Linked DNA regions of Homo sapiens: region 2 is linked to region 1. Evidence: fine-mapped expression QTL. Tissue or cell type: whole blood. Region 1 holds a variant in brackets; the other region holds the start of a gene. All regions are shown on one strand. Distances are from middle to middle.

Region 1 (5,145 bases):
AGGCTGTGATGCAGGTCTGACCCTGCACGGAGGAGAGATGGGAGTGAGGGAGGTTGCGTGAAGGCCTCTTAGATGGGGTGCAGTTCTAAGGAAAGTTCAGGGCTGGGCACGGTGGCTCACGCCTGTAATCCCAGCACTTTGGGAGGCCGAGACGGGTGGATCACAAGGTCAAGAGTTCAAGACCAGCATGGCCAAGATGGTGAAACCCCGTCTCTACTAAAAATACAAAAATTAGCTGGGCGTGGTGGCGGGAGCCTGTAATCCCAGCTACTCGGGAGGCTGAGGCAGAGAATTGCTTGAACCCAGGAGGTGGAGGTTGCAGTGAGCCGAGATCGCACCACTGCACTCCAGCCTGGGTGACAGAGCGAGACTCTATCTCAGAAAAGAAAAAAAAAAAAAAAAAAAAAAAAGGATGAGTTGATGAGTGACTCCATCGAGTGAAATAATAACACAAAGCAGCTCATATCAAAGGACTAATAAAAACAAACTGCAACATAACCAGCTCCACATAAAAATGTACAAATGAATGATCATACACACACCAGTGAGGCTGTACTAGGAAAGGCACAGACACTTCATAAGAAAGATGGTAGAACGCTTGCTCAAATTATTGGGTCAAATGAATTTTATGGATCCTCCTGCAAGACATTCCATTAAAAAATTAAATATTAGACCAGCAAGGAAGTCTTTATGGCCTTGTTCTAAAATGCCGATTGTTGGGTTTTATAAGAACTTATCACTAGTAAGAAATATGAGGAAAAATCCAGGGAATATGGACAATGGGGTCCAGATAAAATCCAACTATGCCACTGAAAGTGCAATAGTGAATATAATGGAAACGATTTTACCTTTTTTAGTTACAGAATTTTCCACTAAGAAAGAGAGTTTCTAAAACTAGGAAGGATAAAACTCTAGCAGAGACAAACAACTGTAACCTACTACAAGGACTCAGCAATGTTAATGTTATCTGAGATTTTAATTTAGTGACATTTTATTGCCAGCTAGTATTAACTACGATGACTTTGTTGCAGGGGTTGAACCCAGTTCAAACTACTTTAAGCCAAAAAGGGGAGCATTTGTTAAAAAGATACAGGAGTGTCTCCTGGAATCAAAGGACAGGGATGCATCTGTGCCACATGAAGGACAGCAAAGGTTGTCAGCCCTCAGGCAGTCTCTTGCCTCTGCTTTCTGTTTTTTTTTTTTTTGGCTTCTGCTTTTTTCTCTGTGCTTCTCTGTATTTATTTTCTTTCTATTGGGTTGTTGGCATTGTCTTTATGGATTTGGGATGACTTTTTGTGTAGCTTTATTCTTTCCTTGAGGACCAGCTGAGCTGATCTCAGCACCAGATTTTCCCTTCACTGTCTGGACTGTGAAAATGGATCTGGGCCCTTCAATATGTTTCCTTTGTCAGCGGCACCGTGTTGCGCTTTGTCAGTAGAGGGCGCCAGAGAGACACTGCAGGAGGGACAGAGTTTTATCTCCCGGTTCTCCCGTGCTTGCTTGGCAACCTCTTAATTCCCACTTGGCTCTTGTAGCACATGCTGCATCTGGGGGTCTGGTTCCTGCAGGGTGGGCACCTCTGCCAGCACCAGGTTCTTTCAGGGCACACAGCCTTTCCAGCACCCCTCCCCTGCCCATCCCCAGCCTCTCCAGTGCCCACCCCCTGCAGGGCATGACACACAGCCGCGCCCCGTGGCTAGCTGCTTCTCCTGCCAGCAACTCCTTCCTGTCTGCTGGTCCCCACCACAGTGCCCCAGTGGTCTTGCAGCACAGTACCTCCAGTGAGACACCTCCCCATGAACAGAGGGTGGATTTTCAGTATGCTTTACTGGTGTGGCACCACAGCGACTTTTCCATCCAGTGACCCAAGGCCATCCAGGGCTGGATCGTAGCATAGTCCTGGCGGTGGGGGCGGGCAGCTCTTCCTTGGATGCTCTATCTTACCCTTAGGGGTGGAGGCTGCTCCTTATTTCCGCTATTCCTGTATCTGTTAGAGTTGTCTTCGCTTATTAGTAGCCAATCCCTCAGTACTCCAATCCCCTGCTAAAGAATTCTTTATATGAAACCTTCCTATGCAAGTTACTGTGTGGCTTCTCTCTCCTGATTGGACCCAGACTAACAGAGCAGCTTTCTCAGTTTCTCTGGGGAGAACCTTTCTGTATCACATGAATCCACATCTCCCTCATTT[AAG/A]AGGGAGTCCAGGGCTAGTGTCTGGTTCTATTCCAGAGTCCCATGAGGGAGACTCTGATCAGCCCAAGAGGGTCAGGTGATGACCTCCTACTCTGATCAACTCCACCCAGTGGGCTGGACTTGTGGGTGCCACAGATAGCCCTGTGGGTGATGGGGGGCTGTTAAAGGGTTCTTGTGAGCTGGCACGTTCCCAATGGGTGTCTACTACAGAACCCTGTTTATTAAAGACAAAAGTGGTGTATGGAAACCTGGGTTATGCTGATAACCTAAAATACCTGACCATTTCATGAACATGGGAAGAGTAGCAGTGACGCGAAAGTAAAACCGACATTGCAAAAGCTTCTACTGACTTTTGTTTCCTGCTGACTTTTAAAACAACATTTATACAATTTTGTCAGTTGTACCTCAATAAAACCGAAAAAAAAATTAAATGGTACAGCACAAGAACTTATAAGAACATTTTTCTATGCACCAGAGCATTTTGGTTGAAATTTTTTTTTTTTAAATTTCAATAGCTTCTGGGGTACAAGTGGATTTTGGTTACATGGATGAACGGCATAGTCATGAAGTCTGAGAGTTTAGTGCATCCATCACCCAGGTAGCGTACATTGTACCAAATATGTAGTATTTTCTCCCTCACCCCCTCTCACCCTCCCACTTCTTAGTCTACATAGCTCGTTATACCACTCTGTATGCTTTTGCGTACCCATAGCTTAGCTCCCACTTATAAGTGAGAACATATGGTATTTGGTGTTCCATTCCTGAATTACTTCATTTAGAATAATGGCCTCCAGCTCTATCCAAGTTGCTGCACAAAACATATTTTGTCCTTTTTATATGGCTAAGTAGTATTCCATGGTTATATATACTACATTTTCTTTTTTTTTTTTAAATTATCCTTTAAGTTCTGGGGTACATGTGCGGAACGTGCAGGTTTGTTACATAGGTATACATGTGCCATGGTGGTTTGCTGCACCCATCAACCCGTCATCTACATTAGGTATTCTACTAATGCTATCCCTCCCCTAGCCCCCCATCCCACCGACAGACCCCAGTGTGTGTTATTCCCCTCCCTGTGTCCATTGTTTCTCATTGTTCAACTCCCATTTATGAGTGAGAACACATGGTGTTTGGTTTTCTGTTCTTACGTTAGTTTGCTGAGAATGATGGTTTCTAGCTTCATCCATGTCCCTGCAAAGGACATGAACTCATCCTTTTTTTATGGCTGCATAGTATTCCCTGGTGAATATGTGCCACATTTTCTTTATCCAGTCTATCATTGATGGGCATTTGGGTTGGTTCCAAGTCTTTGCTATTGTGAACAGTGCCGCACTAAACATATGTGTGCATGTGTCTTTATAGTAGAATGATTTATAATCCTTTGGGTATATACCCAGTAATGGGATTGCTGGGTCAAATGGAGATCCTAAAGGAATCGCCACACTGTCTTCCACAATGGTTGAACTAATTTACACTCCTACCAACAGTGTAAAAGCATTCCTATTTCTACACAACCTCTCCAGCACCTGTTGTTTCCTGACTTTTTAATGATCGCCATTCTAAGTGGTGTGAGATGGTATCTCATTGTGGTTTTTATTTGCATTTCTGTAATGACTAGTGATGGAATTAGTTCTCTTAACCCTATTCCCTTTCTTCATCTTCCCAAAATATAACAGTATTTTGAGTTATGTGGCAGTCAGTATACTGGTCATTATAATGATATAAATCTTGTTTACTATAAAATTAAGTAGAATTTTATGTCCTTTCTTGTACAACTTTACGTTTTCCCTGGAATGACTAATTACCTTCACTTTAATTTGCCTTCTTCCTCATATACACAGTCTCATTTTTTCCCTTATGTTCTATGAGGGCTACTATTTTCCTGGTACCAAACTCATTGGAGCCTGATTTCTTTTTGCTTCAATTTGGCCTTGTTACTTTCTAGGCCTGCTTAGCACAGCTGTATTCCCCAGACTTCTTTTTTGGGTAACATCTGTGATTTTCTGGATCCCATGAACTCCTTGTTCTTGACTTACTCCTGAGTTTTGCTGGAGCTCACCCCCCAGTAGCTTCTTAAGGAAGGATGGAAGACAAATGTGTTAAGTCCTTTCACATCTGAAAATGTCTCTATTCTCCCCTACACTAGATGACTAGTTTGGCTGGAAATTCTGTGTTGAAAATATTTATTTCCACAGAATTTTGAGGGCATCACTCCGCTGTCTTCTAGCATCCAGAGTTACCATTTTGATTCTTGAGCTTTTGTAGTTGATCATGTTTTTTTTTTTGCTGATCTGTTTTTTTTTTCCCGGAAGTATTTATGATCCGCATATGCCAGCATCAAAGACTTAAAAGATGTTGTGCAGGAAACAACCTGTTCCCTGCAAGACCAAAGGCAAATATTTCATTATATGCAGATGTTATGATTGCATACTTGGAAACACAAAGAATGTCCATTGAAAATTATTACTAACAATAAGAGAATAGAATGTATATACAGTTGATCTGAAATTTGTTGATATATCTTGGCATGAGTTTAAACAATTGCTTTCATTGTTTTGGACCTTCAATGATTCTTTAACCTTGATATATGTGACCTTCAGGTTAGGGGCATTTTATGCTATTTCTTTGATTTTATTGGAACCTTATAATTCCATATAAACTTAAGATCAAGTTTTCTAGTTCTCCAAAGTCTTTTTGGAACTTTTCTTAGGGTCACGATAAAGTTTTAATTTAGGGAGATTTGACATTTTTATTACATAGAAACTTCCTATTCACAAATATATCTTTCTATTATTTCAAGTTTTCTTTTTATGTACTCCAGTAGAAATATATATATATATATATATATATATATATATATATATATATATATAAAATTTTTTTTTCTTTGACATGGAGTGTCGCTGTGTCGCCCAGGCTGGAGTACAGTGGTGTGATCTCGGCTCACTGCAACCT
Region 2 (5,145 bases), 250 kb before region 1:
GAGGCTGAGACGGGTGGATCACCGGAGGTCAGGAGTTCGAGACTAGCCTGGCCAACATGGTGAAACCCTGTCTCTACTAAAAACACAAAAATTAGCTGGGCGTGGTGGCGGGCGCCTGTAAACAGATATGTGGGAGGCTGAGGCAGGGGAATCACTTGAACCAGGGAGGTGGAGGTTGCAGTGAGCCGTGCCACTGCACTCCAGCCTGGGTGACAGAGCGAGACTCTTCAAAAAAAAAAAAAAAAAAGACATGATCTTTCTCCTCTTTCCCTTTCTCTGTCAGTTCTCTTCTCTGCCTTCCTGTGAGTCGGTTTCATTTTCCCCACACTCTCCACAGCCCCAGGCTTTCATCTCATGCTTCAGCAGGGGAAGCCTCTTGGGATGGTGTCTTGTTGGGTTTACTTAGGTCTCCTGAACCAGTCCCCTTGGCTGGCCAGGCCTGGTCAGGTGCCCACTCCTGACCCTGGAGGTGGATTGAGTGCAGAGGGTTCTTCTCAGATGGAGGCAGGGCAGGCAGGACCCAAGTTGTCCACGGTACCTGTTGAGCACTTCCTGGGTGTGGGTGGGTGCCTCTGGGGAGAGAGGCGCTTGTGGCACTCTGCAGTGGCCATCCTGTGGGAAGCCAGCAGCCTGAAGCCACCCCAGAGCATGAACCACACAATCCTAACTTTCCTGGGGCAGAGGTGAGGGTTGGGGGAAGCCTCCGGGCTCCTGCTGGGGACTAGCTGCCTTGGAGGTAGAGAGTCAGCCCCCAGCCCTGCTCTGGCCCAGGACCCTGAAGCTGCTCCCCCAGCCCACTCAGGGCTTGAGGCCCCTGTGCTGTCCCCTGCTGTGAAGGAGTCAAGAAAATAGAAATCCTTGTACCCTTCGTCCACAAGCTGGGGTTGGCCCCTGGCACCTCAGCACGGAGTCTAGGACCTTCACAGTGGCAGCAGGTGCCAGAGAGGAAATTTCAGGGAGGGTTGGCCAGAGAGAGAGGCCAATGGCACCAGCTAGGGCCGTTTTTTTCCTTTTTTTTTTTTTTTTTTTTTTTGAGATGGAGTTTTGCTCTTTGTTGCACAGGCTGGAGTACAACAGCATGATCTTGGCTCACTGCAACCTCTGCCTCCCAGGTTCAAACGATTCTCCTGCCTCAGCCTCCAGAGTAGCTGGGATTATAGGTACCTGCCATCATGCCTGGCTCATTTTTGTATTTTTAGTAGAGATGGGGTTTCACCATGTTGGCCAGGCTGGTCTCGAACTCCTGACCTCAGGTGATCCACCCGCGTTGGCCTCCCAAAGTGCTGGGATTACAGGTGTGAGCCGCCACACCCGGCCTTTCTTCTTCTTCTTTTTTTTTTTTTGAGACGTTTTCTTCCCTTTCTCCACTGCTTGGGGGTAGGGTGGGGCCTGGGGCCCTATCTGTGCCCACTCCCCCCAGTGTCTGTTGTAGTGTACGTGCCACATCCCTTTGAGGGGCTGCCATTAGTAAGTGCCTGCTGTGTACCAGGTGTGGTCAGCACCAGTGCGTGCAGAGATGAGCACTGGCCCTGTGGTGTGCAGACTGGGATGCGTGCAGGACACGCTAGCCCTGTGGCATGAGGACCAGCACCTGAGCATGCAGAGATGAGGACGAACCCTGCGGTTCAGCTGGGAAGACAAATCCACCCGCACATGGGTACCGCCCCCCCACCCCACACAGCCAGCGTGAAGCATGCCACTGCTCTGACCTCTGTCTAGACACTTGGCGGCGGGGGTGGGGGGCGGCTGACAGGTACAGCTCTGTGCCCATGTGTGTGTACATGCGAATGCCCCTTGCAGTGTGATGTGGTCTGAGTATGTGGATGAGTGCCTGCGGGCACATGTGTATGCGTTCATGTCTGTGCACGTGTCCAATGGGGCTTTGTCAGTATGTGAGAAGCGTGTGCAGGTGTGTCTACTGATGCCTGTGTGAAGTGGTGTGTGGATGTGCACGGGAGCGTGTGTGCCGCGCTGTGCTCAGGTGTGTACAGGTGTCTAATGATACGTATGTCTGCGTGCATGTATCTGTGTGTACCTGGGTATCCTGGGCGTGTGTGTGTCCATGTGTGCATCCCACGTGCCCCTGTGCCCATGCGTGTGCATGTATACTTACATCCACGTGTGCTAGTGGAATGACATGTGTGTGGCTGGTTCCTCTGGCGTGTGCCGAGCCATGGTGGGGCAGGCAGGCAAAGGTCCCTGTCTCAGGCAGCCCTCGGGAGTGGGTGTGAAGGTCCCCAGTGCTCAGGCGTCCCTGAGGCTTCCAGCTGAATCTTTCTGTCCCTCCTAGGCGTGGCTGTGGGAATCCTTGGGGCGCCTTTGGGTTCCAGGAAGCTGGGGCTGTGTGGGCCGGGCTGCTAACTGGGGCTGTGGAGCAATCTGCCAGCCGAGCCCCTTCCGGAGCTGTGGGTTCCTCTGGGTGTGGGGAAGCTGCCCTCCACAACCTCCTCGGCCTATCTTGGTGCCTCCTGGAGTGCAGGACACACCTCCCAGCTCTGCAGCCTCACCCACAGGAAGCTCGGGTTGGGGGCAGGCGAAGAGGGAGGTGCCACGCTGGGCTCCCCGCCCTGCACCGGCACTGACCCCGCTGTACCACGGCCCTCTTGCGGACAGCCCCGGGGACGTCGTTGGGACATCGCTGGGACCCCGGGCTCTGCAGCCACAACCATGTTTGGCCGGAAGCGCAGTGTCTCCTTTGGGGGCTTCGGATGGTGGGTGACAGGTGGGAGGGTGGGGGAATGATGGGAGAGAACTTAGAAGTGAAGTCTTGTTAAGTGCATTGGCGGCCGTGGGAACAGAGGGGCTCGGGCTGTGCCTGAGAGCTGGGTCTGCTGACGCCCTGGCAGGTCGAGATGCAGGATCCTGGTGGGGACATCAGAGACCGTAAGCCTTCCCCACTGTCCCTGGGCACAATCTGCTGGCGAATCCTGGAGGTCTGCGCCGGCTGCCCGTGGGGAGGTGGATAGCATGAGTGTGACTGCAGTTGAATGTGTGTGTCTCTGTGTCCGCAGGTTCCCATGTATGTGTGTGCGTGTCTGGGATTATGTGTAAGTGTGTGTGTGCGCGTTTGAGCCTGTGTGTGCAGGCGTGTGTGTGTGGCTGTGACTGCCAGTCCGTGTGACCGTGTGTGAGGTGTGTGCCTGTGCATGTGGGCAGCTGCCTGTCTGCACTTCTGGCCTTCTGTGTCTGTGTGTGCTTGTGTCTGCGTGTTTGTGTGTGTGATGCTCCTGTCTGTGCTGTTGTTGTGGCCTTGTGGCAGGGGAGTCTGTACCTGCTGGACCTCTGGGCTGCCTGCTGTCTTGGGGGTGGGTTGTGAGAGAAGGTCTCCCACCTGCACCCCAGGCAGCCCACCCTAGCTCTGTCCTAGCCTGAGCAGCTGCATCTGTCCCCAGCCTCCTGCCTGGCCCTCTGGACACTCTTGCCTCTAAGCTTCTGTCTGGGATGAGGGATGTGCTTTTTCTTCCCGGCGGGGGGCAGAAGGTAGGCACACGAAGGCCAAAGGCTTGTCTCTGGTTCCCAGTGCTGGCAGCTTCTTCGCAGCTGGGGAACAGAGTCTGGTGGTTTTCATGATCGGTTTCCTTTCAGTGCCTGGGCTGGGGGCGTTGTCAGACTGGGAGAGGGCCCCGCGGGAGGTGGCCGGGGGGTGTCCCGGTGTGGAAAATGGTGGACTAATGGGGGTGGCACGAAGGGCGAGGGGGAGAGGGGCTGTGTTCCTCGGTAATTTTTCGCTTCCGTGTGTGTGGCTTATTTCCCTCTTCCTCCTCTTCAAAAGCACTTTGCCATCCATCCTCTGGCAGGGGGGGACTGTGGGCACTCCATGTTTGGCAGATGGGATGGTGCGGATGAGAAGATGGCACAGCGTCGCCTGTGTCTGCTCTCGGGCCCTCCCTGACGCCTGGATCTGGGAGCTGCCACCCCGAGGGTAGGTGCCAGTGTCCGGGAGGCAGCAGAGGACTTGGCTTCTGGTTGGGAGGGGTGTGTGTGTCTTGGCTGTGGGCCTTGCAGGGCAGGGCCCAGCAATTAGATTGTGCCCTCCAAGGCCCGCCTTTCTCTGGGAGGTGTGGAGCAGATGGAAGGCTGGTCGCCAGAAAGCTCCGGGTGCACAGGTCCCGGTCTCAGCCTAGCTTCATTCCATATGAAGCCCTCTGTGTTGAGACCCACAGCTCCAGAGCACAAGGCAAAGCCAGGCCTGAGATTTGAATCTGGGCAGGTGAGGGGGAAGACAGGAGTGTGGCTGCCCAGGGCTGCCAAGATAGAAAGCAGAATTCCAAGTTCTTCTCTAGCAGCCCTTCTCACTGGGGCTTCCTTAATGAAATGCACATTCAGATTCAGGAGGTCTAGGGTGAGCCGAAGGTGGAGGAAGAGCCCTAGGATGTCCCAGACGCCCTTGTGTGCTGGCTCAGTGTCCACTAGGCTGTGGGTTCCAGGAGGGCAGGCCCTGCCCCGTCGCGTTCACCTGGAAGCCTGGCATGTCACACAGGCTCAGTCGATGCTTGTGGACTCATCGAGGTCTTTTGCACACAGCAGGTGTCTGCTTGGGGCCCCTTGAGGTTGACGGGATGGCGGGGCCTTCTGGGCTTGGAAGGTTAAGGCAGCAAGAAAGGGGGCGAGACTGGGGTTTGGGCCTCCTCATCTGGGATGGCTGTCAGCTGGGAGGGGGTGTCACGGATTCCTGGAGCCCTGGTCCCTCCAGACAGTGAACAGAATCTCTGGGGCTGGTGTTTTCCAAGCTCCATTGGATGCAGGGTGGATAACCTCTGGCACCAGGGGCAGACAAGGTGATGAGGGTGGGTGGGATGGGATGGGAGAGGGAGGAGTGCCCAGGAGCCTTGGCTTCCTGAAAGGGAAAGGCCCAGCCTCACAGTCCTCTCCATCTCCCATCTCAGCCTCTCCAAAACCAGAGCCCTGCCCTCCTGAGGCCACACCCTGATGTGGGAACTCTGGTGGGCTGGCTGCTGTGTAGGCGTGGTTTGAACCAGGGCTGCTGTGACCACGGTGCCTGTAGGTGGTGCGGTGGGCGGGGCTGACCCGACAGCGGTCAGAGGTGCACGCACCAGGAGCCCCGGTTCCAGCGGTTCCAGCGCCGACTCCACCTTGACCATTGAGGAACTCTAATGGGACACTTCCTCTCTCTGGGTCTCAGTT

The links. PIP is the estimated chance that this variant, and not a neighbour inherited with it, causes the effect.
Region 2: it holds the start of RAP1GAP2, and the variant in region 1 is fine-mapped to the expression of RAP1GAP2 in whole blood (TOPMed, PIP 0.96).

Annotation. Positions count from the first base shown.
Region 1 is chr17:3,042,476-3,047,620 of GRCh38, forward strand. No RefSeq gene overlaps it. Among named protein-coding and RNA genes, the nearest start is that of OR1D5, 19 kb to the right of the region's middle. The variant AAG/A (reference allele first, on the strand shown) is at 2,189.
Region 2 is chr17:2,793,861-2,799,005 of GRCh38, forward strand. RAP1GAP2 (RAP1 GTPase activating protein 2) reads left to right here and starts at 2,578. Exons shown (of 25, transcript NM_015085.5): 1 at 2,578-2,711. The coding sequence starts at 2,668.